Linked DNA regions of Homo sapiens: region 1 is linked to region 2. Evidence: fine-mapped expression QTL. A gene starts in region 2. The other region holds a variant in brackets. All regions are shown on one strand. Distances are between the middles of the regions. Region 1 has its middle 14 kb from the start of HPS6. Region 2 holds the start of LDB1 (LIM domain binding 1).

Region 1 (5,368 bases), 40 kb after region 2:
TAAAAATTAATTAATTAATTAAGTTGGACGAGATTGGTCTGATGTGGTTATACAGAGAGGTTAAGAAAATTACCTAAGGTTACACAGCCAATAGGTGGTGAAGGAGGGATTAAATTCTCATGAATTCTTATCCAGTGAGCCTCTAGGTACACTACTAACAGTTCAGAATGCAATCCAAACAGGTCAGCAGCATGCAGAAATGCCCCAGGCCTGAGTGGGCAGCTGAGCTTCCTTCAAGAAGCAAAGACAGTCATAAAATGGAAGGATATAATTTTACATACACCTCCTTTGCTTTCTAACTTGTAAAGCTCTCGGTCCTTTGGTCACACATCTGCTTTCCCCAAGTCCAAAGTTAAAATTATGCAGCTAGGCTGGGCACAGTGGCTCATGCCTATAATCCCAGCACTTTGGGAGGCCAAGGCGGGTGGATCACCTAAGGTCAGGAGTTCGAGACCAGCCTGACCAATATGGAGAAACCCCGTCTCTACTGAAAATACAAAATTAGCTGGGCGTGGTGGCACATGCCTGTAATCCCAGCTACTCAGGAGGCTGAGGCAGGAGTCTTGCTTGAACCAGGAAGCGGAGGTTGCAGTGAGCCGAGATCGTGCCATTGCACTCCAGCCTGGGCAACAAGAGTGAAACTCTGTCTCAAAAAAAACAAAAAAAAAATTTTGCAGCTATGGCAGTCCAGCCATGGCTGGGGTCCTACTCTGCAGCTGAGAGGAGTCCATGGGGAAAGGTTCTGGCCTTAAGCCTGCAGACCCATCTTCTTTCTAGTCCCAGCTCTCTCATCTGCTAGCCAAGGAGCCAGTGTGCTGTTTGTAGCTTAGTTTTCTCATCTGTAATCTGAGCATCATAACCCCTGCCCTGTGGGCTTCAGGGATAGGAGGATCAGATGAAGTGACTGACAGGGAGGTGCTTTGAGGTATGAAATGCTCTTCAGTGTGTTAGTGGGGAGGATGGAAGTTATCCAAAGAGTCTCCAGGATTGTGGCTCCAGCTTGGCCTGGCAGAGCAGTGCCTCCTTGGGCTGGGGTCAAAGCCAAGTCATCTTTCCACTGTCAATGCCAGGATCTATATTCCATTTATTGTTCTTGACTCCTTTCCTAGCAACCAAAGCTTTGAAAAGGTTCTGCAGAGCATCAGGGACCTTGCCCTTCAGCTCACTATGGAGAGGGACCAGCTGGACCAAGAGCTTCAGACACAGGGCAGCAACATCCAGGCTACCCTGGGCAAGTAAGGGAGCTCGGCCAGGAACTGCAAATTCACAGCCTAAAGCTCAACCTCAGTCTGAGCCTGGTGAAGCCTCTCCTGAGACTCTCAGCCTTTCCCTGGCATCCTGAGTCTGACCCACAAAAGACAGCCTTTACCCAAGATATAATATCCATCCCTCCTTAGGGAGCTGCAGTTATGAGGGAGACCTCACTCTTGTACAGTAGATGCATTTATTTGGGCTGCTATAACAAATTACCACACACTTGGTTTATAGCAACAGAAATTTTCTCACAGTTCTGGAGGCCAGAAGTCCCAAACCAAGGTGTCAGTAGTGCAGGTTTGTTCGGGAGGCTCCAGGAGAGAATCTGCCTCATGCCACTTTCCCAGCTTCTGGTGGCTGTCAGCAATTCTTGGTGTTTTTGGCTTGTAGACCCATCGCTCCAGTCTCTGTCTCTGCCTCTGCCTTCACATGGCTTTCTCCTTCTGTGTCTTTGTGTTTTCTTCTTTTCTGTCTTATTAGAAATATTCATTATTGGGGCTGGGCACAGTGGCTCACACCTGTAATCCCAGCAGTTTGGGAGGCTGAGGTAGGCAGATCACTTGAGTTTAGGAGTTCAAGACCAGCCTGGCCAACAAGGTGAAACCCCATCTCTACTAAAAATACAAAAACTAGGCTGGGCACAGTGGCTCACACCTGTAATCCCAGCACTTTGGGAGGCCCAGGAGGGCAGATCACCAGGTCAGGAGATCAAGACCATCCTGGCCAACATTGTGAAACCCCATCTCTACTAAAAATACAAAAATTAGCTGGGTGTGGTAGTGCGTGCCTATCATTCCAGCATTCCAGCTACTCAGGAGGCTGAGGCAGGAGAATCTCTTGAACCCAGGAGGCGGAGGTTGCAGTGAGCCGAGATTGCGCCAGTGCACTCCAGCCTGGTGACAGGGTGAGACACTGCCAAAAAAAAAAAAAAATTAGCTGGATGTGGTGGCCGGCGCCTGTAATTCCACCTACTCAGGAGACTGAAGCAGGAGAATTGCTTGACCCTGGGAGGCGGAGGTTGCAGTGAGCTGAGATCGTGCCACTGCACTACTCCAGCCTGGGCAACAGAGCAAGACTCCATCTCCAAAAAGAAGAAATTAAAAAAAAAAGAAAAGAAATACTCATTATTGGATTTAGGGCTCTTCTTAATCTAGAATGATCTTCTCTTGAGATCCTCACTTTAATTACATCTGCAAATACCCTTTTTCCAAATAAAGTCACATTCTGAGGTTCTAGGTGGATGCCTTTTGGGAGTCACAACTTGGTTTGTAACAAGGAGCCTCCAGTTTGATGGGAGAGACCTAACCCCACTCTTGGAGAGTCCTCTAGTCTTAGAGGTGAAATCTGCTCCTACTTTAAGAAGCCCTTGTATGACAAGGAAGACCTTGATTCGCAGCCTGGTCCTCAGGAGCCTTTAAATTGAGATAGGGCTGGGTGTGGTGGCTCACACCTGTAATCCCAGTGGAGGACTGCTTGAGCCCAGGAGTTGGAGACCAGCCTGGGCAACATGGTGAAACCCTATCTCTATTTAAAAAAAAAAAAAAAAA[G/AG]AGACAGGCCCACAAATGTTGATGACAAGGAACGGTCAGCACTGGCAAACATCCAGACCACTATTCTCTACAGAACAATGCGAGGACATTGGTCAGGATTTGGAAGAGTAAGGGCATTCATGTCAGAATTTGGAGGGGTTGGTTCTGCCTTGACAAGGCAAGTGAGGCAAGCCAGACATCTAGTCCTAATATATATATATTTGTGTGTGTGTGTGTGTGTGTGTGGAGATGGAGTCTTGCTCTGTCGCCCAGGCTGGAGTGCAGTGGCGTGATCTCGGTTCACTGCAACCTCTGCCTCCCTGGTTCAAGTGATTTTCCTGCCTCCCAAAGTGCTGAGATTACAGGTGTGAGCCACCGCACCCAGCCTTGTCCATCTTTTTTTTTTTTTTTTTTTTTTTTTTTTACTTTCCTCAGCTCCCAGATGTAAAAGAACAGGTATCATTGTTGAATACCTTTTTGAAAATGAACCTCCATGTGATCAACAACAAAATGGGACTGTTCTCTAGGATGGGAGGTGTCCCAATATGGGTGGGGAAGCCATCAGGGTTAAACCCCTAGGAAGATCCTTCTGTCAATTCAAGCTAGCTCCCTGAACACTGTTTTGTCCTATCTTACAAGGACAAGACCATTCAGCTGGGTTCCTTTTCTTTCCACTCTGGCGATTCCTCTCCCCTCCCCTCCCCTTCCCTTTTCTTTCTTTCTTTTTTTTTGAGGCAGGGTCTCTCCCTGTCACCCAGGCCGGAGTACAGTGGTGCAATCACAGCTCACTGTAGCCTTGACCTCCTGGGCTCAAGCAGTCCACCTCAGCCTCCCGAGTAGCTGGGACTATAGGTGTGCACCACCATGCCCGGCTAATTTTTTTTTACTTTTCATAGAGACAAGGTCTCACTATGTTGCCCAGGCTGGTCTCGTACTCCTGAGCTTAAGTGATCTTCCTGCCTCGACCTCCCAAACTGCTGAGATTACAAGTATGAGCCACTGTGCCCAACGACTCTGGGGATTTTTTTCCTGAACTGGGAGCCATATAATATCCAAATTGATAATCTGCACCCTCTTTCTTCCTTCCTACAAGCTGCAAGAGCCTCAGCCTGCTTACTGTCTACTTACTCAATCCCTGGGACTCCTCATTCCTCTAGATTGGAAGCTGAGGGGGGTACCATCTCCTCAGCTCTCCCCACACTTATTTGCCTCCCTGTTCACATCTCCCTAAAGAAAACTACATGGTACCTTTTCCTTTGAAGGATTTTACAGTTGATCATTGTGGGGAAAGAGACCCAAGGTTACCAAGTCGCTAGTCTGGGGGAAGGTGTGAAAATTTAGGAAATCTAGGAAACTTCTGCCAGCCCTGGTCTCTAGAATGAAAGGGCAGCCAGTAGTGTGGCTCTTTCTCCTCTCCTCTTAGTCCTGGCTTGAAGACACCAAGCAGGGCAACTGTTCATGTCCTCCTTGCCTCAGACATGACTGCATTTGAGCTTCTTCCAATTGGTTATTTATTTATTTATTTATTTATTTTTCTTGAGACGGAATCTTGCTCTGTCGCCCAGGCTGGAGTGCAGTGGCGCGATCTCGGCTCACTGCAATCTCTGCCTCCTGGGTTCAAGGGATTCTCCTGGCTCAGCCTCCCAAGTAGCTGGGATTACAGGCACCCGCCACCACACCTGGCTAATTTTTGTATTTTTAGTAGAGAGGGGGTTTCATCATGTTGGTCAGGCTGGTCTCAAACTCCTGACCTCAGGTGATCTGCCTGCCTCAGCCTCCCAAAGTGCTGGGATTACAGGCGTGAGCCTCCGTGCCTGGTCCTAATTTGTTATTCTCACCTCTGTATTTCCTCAGCCCCATGCGGGAACAGACCCCTTAAGGAAATATTTCTAGGAGAGCCACAAAGACTAAAGAATCTCAGTCCAAGGAGGTCTTAGTAGGGCTGACCTCCAATCTCCCTTTTCCTATAATCAGTCCCATGGAGTTGGGGTTAGAGAAAATTGCGATATTATCAGGGGACCCGTAGTCTCTCTATGGTACCCCAAAAATAGTGAACAAGAAGGCACAGATGTTGTAGTAGGTATGGGATGGGGGTATCTTCTGAGCTCCAGATCCCACTTTTACATTACCATCCCATTTCTACCATCTGCCCCCATCATTGTGAATACGCAGCTGGAAGACATTGGGATGTCAACAGAATTGATGAAACAGAAGATTTGCTGAATTCAAATTTTAAGAAATTTGGCCAGGCATGGTGGCTCACTCCTGTAATCCCAGCACTTTGGGAGGCCAAGGCAGAAGGATCACAAGGTCATGAGATGGAGACCATCTTGGCCAACATGGTGAAACCCCATCCATACTAAAATACAAAAAAAATTAGCGGGTATGGTGGCACACACCTGTAGTTCCAGCTACTCGGGAGGCTGAGGCAGGGGAATTGCTTGAACCCAGGAGGTGGAGGTTGCAGTGAGCCAAGATCACGCCACTGCACTCCAGCCTGGTGACAAAGCGAGGCTCCATATCATTTAAAAAAAAAAAAATTGGGGCCAGATGTGGTGGCTCATCCCTGTAATTCCAGCACTTTGGGA
Region 2 (5,347 bases):
TGATCACCATTGTGTTGGTCAGCATGGAATCTGACCAAGCTAGTTGTTTGGAATGAGTGGCCTTAGGCGTAAGTGGTCACAGGATTGGAGGAAGGCAAATTCATGGACAGAAAAGAGAGAAGGAGGTCAAGGTAGGTATTCCCCCTCCTCCAAACCATCTCAAATTGTCCTGCCAATCCAGCCCCCTCCTCTCTTGGAATTGGATAATCTTAAAAAAAAAAAAAAAAAAAGGGCAGAAAGAACACGTATTTACAGGACTGCCTGGCTGACACTGGGCTACGTGACTGGGTGTACATTGTCTAGTTTGATACTCACCAAGCCATAGGTTACAGAGGATAAAGCTAGTGTCCCAGGTGGGGTGGTCAGTTGTCTCAAATCACTCAGGTATTGAGGAGCGAATCTTGCGTTCAAACCTAGGTATCCACAATTTCGGGCCAGTGTTCTGTTGCCTTATGTTCTCTCTACTCCCTCTAGTGCTGACCTTTGTCTGGGAGAATGCAGGGAGGGGGTGCACTCAGGCAGGGGATGCTGCCAAGGAAATACTTGTGTGAGTGTGGATGGCTTCAGTCAGGTCCTCTCTGCTCCTGGTGGGGGTGGAGATGGGGAAACCTGGGGGTGGGAGACTCCACAGTGTACAAGCTCCCCTATCCCCCATCCTAAGCACATGGTGGGGAGGGTCTCCATTCCTAGGCAGGCCTTCTTTTCAATCCCTGGACTCTGCACCGTTCCATCATTTCATGCTCCCTCAGCAAAAACCTAAGGTGGAGAGAAGAGGTCTCATAAACACTTTAAGCCTCCGCATTTGTAACCCTCCCCCAGCCAGTCAAGCCAGCTGTGCAGACTCTGAGCCAGAGTGAGGGAACCAAACAGCCTTCTCAACCAACACCCCTCTAAGTAACAAAGAGGAGAACCCCCTACCCAGTCAGGGCCAGACGCCCTAGGGAGGAGACACTAGTCCAAGTCTCCATCGTCTATCCCTGGAGCCCATACTGAAACTTAAGAAAGAAAAGCTAGCAGCTGGGGACCCCAGGAGGGAGGGGGTCAACTCTCTACTCCAGGCGGCTCCCCTCCCTTCCCTCCTCCTGGCTAATAGGTATTTCCTGTTTATGAGGCAGCTAAAGCTGAGCTTTTGGGAAGGGATGGAGATGGAGCCCCTCCCCTCCTAGGGCTGGGTTGGGGAGTCCTTGAAGTGTGACTGAAGGTTGGGAGGCTCCTCCCAGGGGAAGGAGTGTTCCTTACATTGACCATCCACATCATCTCCCATCCAACCCCCCACGGCCCACAGCCTCTGCCTCTCTGGGTTAGGGGGCACTGGAGGGGCCTGTTTCCTGTTCTCATCTCCGAAGCCCTCAAAGGACAGCAGCTTCCAGGCAGGGGGGTCGGAGGCGGTGGGGTTGGGCGGTTGGTACGGAGGTGAAGGCACCAAGGCTGGAGAAAGGGGGGAAGGGAAGAGAGTGTCTTGACTGATGCGTCAGTCTGCAAGAAGGAAGGATGGCCTCCTATCGCCCCTCCGTAATCCAATCTGGTGGTCATTCCGCAGCCCCCTCCCCCCAGCAAAACACAGATCCCAAGCCCTTAGGCGGAGGAGGGCGGGGACCCCACTTAATTAACCCTTTTAGTTCTAGTCCCAACTGGTTTCGCAGGCAAAGGAGGAGTGGTTAATTTAGGGAAGGGGTGAGTTGAGGGGTTGCTACAAGAATTAAGAGAATGCTTCTTTACCCATCCAGCCTAGGGTAGGGACGCGAAACAAGGGGCCTCCAGAAGAAGGCTGGCGTCTCAGCAGGGAGCACGGACAGGGGGTCTGCAGTCCCTTTTCCCTCCCGGAGCGCGGCCCGGGGTGGAGAGAGATACACCACACTGCCCACCCCGGCTCCGCCTCCCCCAGCCGCGGCTCCCGCTCCGGCTCAGCCAGACTCCCCATCCGGCGGCACCCGGAGGACGGACACCGAGCGCGCGGCTGCGCCTCCAAGCCCTCCCCTTCGCCCTCCCTCTCTGGGGTCTCTGCCTCCGTCTCCTTTTTTAAAAGCTGCGTCACATGCATGCCGTTCCCCGAGCGCTCCCAGCCCCTCGCCGCCCGCCCGCCGCGCGGCGCACGCACGTCGTCGCTTGCTGCGCGCTCTCCCGGGTCACTTTGACACGGCTCTCCCCTCCCACTAGCAGGACAATTAGCATATTAATAAAGCCCGGCCCTGCCCGGCTTGGGCTGGGGAGCCGGCGCCGGCGCGAGGGAGCGCGAGCGCGAGGGCGGAGAGGGGGGCGCTCGGCGACGGCGGCGGGAGCGCACAGACACGCACACGCACACGCGCACACACGCACACACGGACACACACTCCGCGGACTCACACCCGCGCGCACACACGCAGAGGCCGCTCGCCTTCCTGCCTGGCTTCCTTCCTGTCTGCTCCGCGCCTGACAGGCCCCTCGCCGCAGCCAGGGGCCGCCCGCACCGGGCCGAGGCCGGGCCGGGCCGGCGGCGAGCGCAGCGGGGGCCGCGGGCGGCGGCGGCGGCTCATGCCCGGCCTGTCCCCGCGAGGGGCGGGCACCGTGACTCGGCTGGGCCCCCAGAGGCGGGCGATGTGAAGATGTCAGTGGGCTGTGCCTGTCCTGGTGAGTGGGGCGTGCGGCCACTCGGCCCCTTCCTGCCCAGCCGTCCCTGCGGACCCCTCACCCCGTGTTTGGCGAGAACTTGTGTGGGGGGCGTCGATGGCATGGGGGAAGCCGGGGGCTGGAAGGGCTACGCGGGGCCTCAGGCTGGCGGGTAGCGTTTTCCCCAACTGTGTAAATGCGCAGCAGCCCAGAAACACGGGGAGGAGACGCTGGGGGTGGCTTATGTGTATGTTTTTTTGGGGGTAGGCTAATTGGGGAGAGGTTTGGGGGGGGCTGAAATTCTCAGAATTCCAGGTTGTTAGCCAATCAGAAGTGACTCTGGACTTTTGACCCCCCCCCTCAGGTCACCATAGAGTTGTGATTGGCTGGTTTGGGCTGCCCCCCCTTCCCTGCTGCCCATTGCCTCTTACCTATCCTGTGACATCCCCCCCATGCTGTTTCTGAGGACCCTGTTTGCAGGGAGGTATTGATTGCGGCCCATCTTGCCCCCCACCTTCAACTTTTCCTGCCTGTTGCCAGGGAAGGTTGGCCCTCCTGAGGCACCGGAGGTACTCCTAAGAGGTGCCAGATAATTGGACCCTTGGGTCTGGCATCTCCGCCCTAGTGGGAGGGCAGGCTAGGAAATAGAGTGATTTGTGGAGAGGTAAGCTGGGGGAGCAATACTTGACCCAAAACTGAGAACTTGAGAGAGGACCCAGGCTCAGATCCCTGCCTCCCCAAAACATATCAGCTCTTGCCAGGGATAGCCTAGGTCTGAGTTTTTTTCCTGGGGGGCAGGTGGGGGGGGCGGAGGGCGTCTACCTCACTGCCAGGAGGAAAGAGAGAAGCCATGCGACTGGAGAGGTAGTCTACAGAGGGCCTCACGGCACACTGTCTGTCTCCATCCCCGGGACTCTGGGTCCTGGAATTGGCCCTCCTGCCCCAGACTGGAGTCAGCTTTCTCCTGGAAGTCAGTGTCCCTGAATGTAGCCCGCTTTGGCTACATACTTCACAGCTGGACACCCACCACTCCCCCACAAATCCCCAAGGGAAGCTGCCAGTGCGGAAGCTTCCTTGAAAATCATGTGACCCAGGCCAAGCTGGGCTGGGCACACACTTCAGGTGCCTGCTGAGGCTGATGTCTAAGGGGCATGGGTCCCAGAAGGAGGAATAAGAGAACCTAACAATCCTAGAATATCCGAGTATGGGAACCACTGGCTCCTGCTGCAGAGGGTTGGGGAGAGGAGAGGGAAGAGCTTGCCAAGCTGGAATCCTGTCTGGCCCCGTCGTCCCTCTTTCTACCAGCTTGGTGTACATGTTTATGTTGTGGATTTTCTCCTTTATAATTGACCCATGCTGGGTACCCCTTTCAGATCCATCATGTTCTTAGCCCACCCCAGGGCCCTGACCCTCCATCAACACACATGAGCAGAGCAGTTAAACTAAGGATCTGAACAAGCTAGAGGGATGAGTCTTAAATTGTGATTCTTAGTTCCTACAAATAGTGGGTAAGCGGGTATGTATGTATGGAGGGGTTGTCAGGCTGGAGGTGGATGGGAGGTTGGCCCTGAAGTTGGGGCAGGGTGCCTGGGTCCAGTGGGAGGAGAGAGAAAATCTCTTCTTCTTAGTCTCTGGGAGCAGCATGGGAACAGGAAGAGGGCCCAAGCCCAGGGGTTTGTGGGTGGGTGGGAAGACAACTTCAGTCAATGCCCCAGAAGGCATGTTCCTTTTGTGTCTGGTGGTCTGACTGAGGGAGAGAGGGCAAAAGATAGGGAAGAGTGGGGAGTCTTTTTCCAGATCATGAAGAAGTCTTATAGATTGATGCCAAAGAGGGTGGATGGAGGTTAGACTTCAAGGAGAACCACATGGGGAGGGCTTCAGAGTAGACTGGAGGTGGGGAATAGTAGCAGTTGAGGTTAGAGAGGGGACCTGGCTTGCAGCTTGCTTGGATGGGGGAGCACATGCTTGAACACAAGGAAGGCATGGCAGCATGTAGCAGTCCAGGCCCAAAGATTTCCCCCACCTTGAGCAGCCCTGGGGTGAGGGCTGAGGCGCCCTGGCAGGCCGCCTGCCGCCTGCCTGCCTGCCTGTCTGAGTCTCTCCTTTGTGTTCTGCTGTCTCCGGGCTCCTCCTCCTCCCCCAGCCCGGCAGAGACAGCACATGCCCCACACATGTGACTGAGGGAAGCCAGAGCGCACACAGACCCACACACATGCACACGCAGAAGCACCACAAGATACACACATACACATGCCCAACACCCATATTGCTCCTGGGGTGAGGACCAGCTTCTGGGGCTGGAATGGCTGGGAGCAGGGAGAGCCTCTGACTAAGGGGCATCACCCTGAGCAAGAGGCTGAGGGGGCCAGGGCCTGTCTGGGGCAGCATGTGGCTCAGAAGGGTTAAGGCAGGGAGGAGTAGGGGGAGGGGAGGAGGCAGCAGTGGTGGCGGCTGGGAGCCAGGAGAGGAGGATGGCAGAGCGCCAGGCCAACGGGAGGCCGGGCACAGACAAAGGAAGGGGGGCAGGCACACTGGAGGCCTGGGTCAGGGAGCCCCAGGGGCCCGGGCAGGGGGCAGTGCTGGTACCTCATCCTGTGGGCTGGGGCTGGCTGCTGTCCTTTGAGTCCCCACCTCCAGGAGGAGTACTTTCCCTCATCATCTTTGTCATTATTTGCTGCTCCCTCCACCTCACCACCAATTCTAAGGCCTTCTAACTCAGACTTGCTCTTTTTAGCTGGACCTGTTCTGCCCCTGTGCAACT

Evidence for each region.
Region 1: its variant is fine-mapped to the expression of LDB1 in whole blood (INTERVAL, PIP above 0.99).

What each region holds. Positions count from the first base shown.
Region 1 is chr10:102,076,913-102,082,280 of GRCh38, reverse strand. No RefSeq gene overlaps it. Among named protein-coding and RNA genes, the nearest start is that of HPS6, 14 kb to the right of the region's middle. The variant G/AG (reference allele first, on the strand shown) is at 2,802.
Region 2 is chr10:102,117,346-102,122,692 of GRCh38, reverse strand. It overlaps LDB1 (LIM domain binding 1), which reads left to right and starts at 2,325. Exons shown (of 11, transcript NM_001113407.3): 1 at 2,325-2,607. The coding sequence starts at 2,583. It also overlaps a transcript of PPRC1 not described here. RefSeq lists enhancers at 186-935, 936-1,687, 1,688-2,439, 4,145-4,846, 4,847-5,347 and silencers at 1,936-2,065, 2,086-2,385, 2,446-2,525, 2,616-2,685, 5,019-5,258.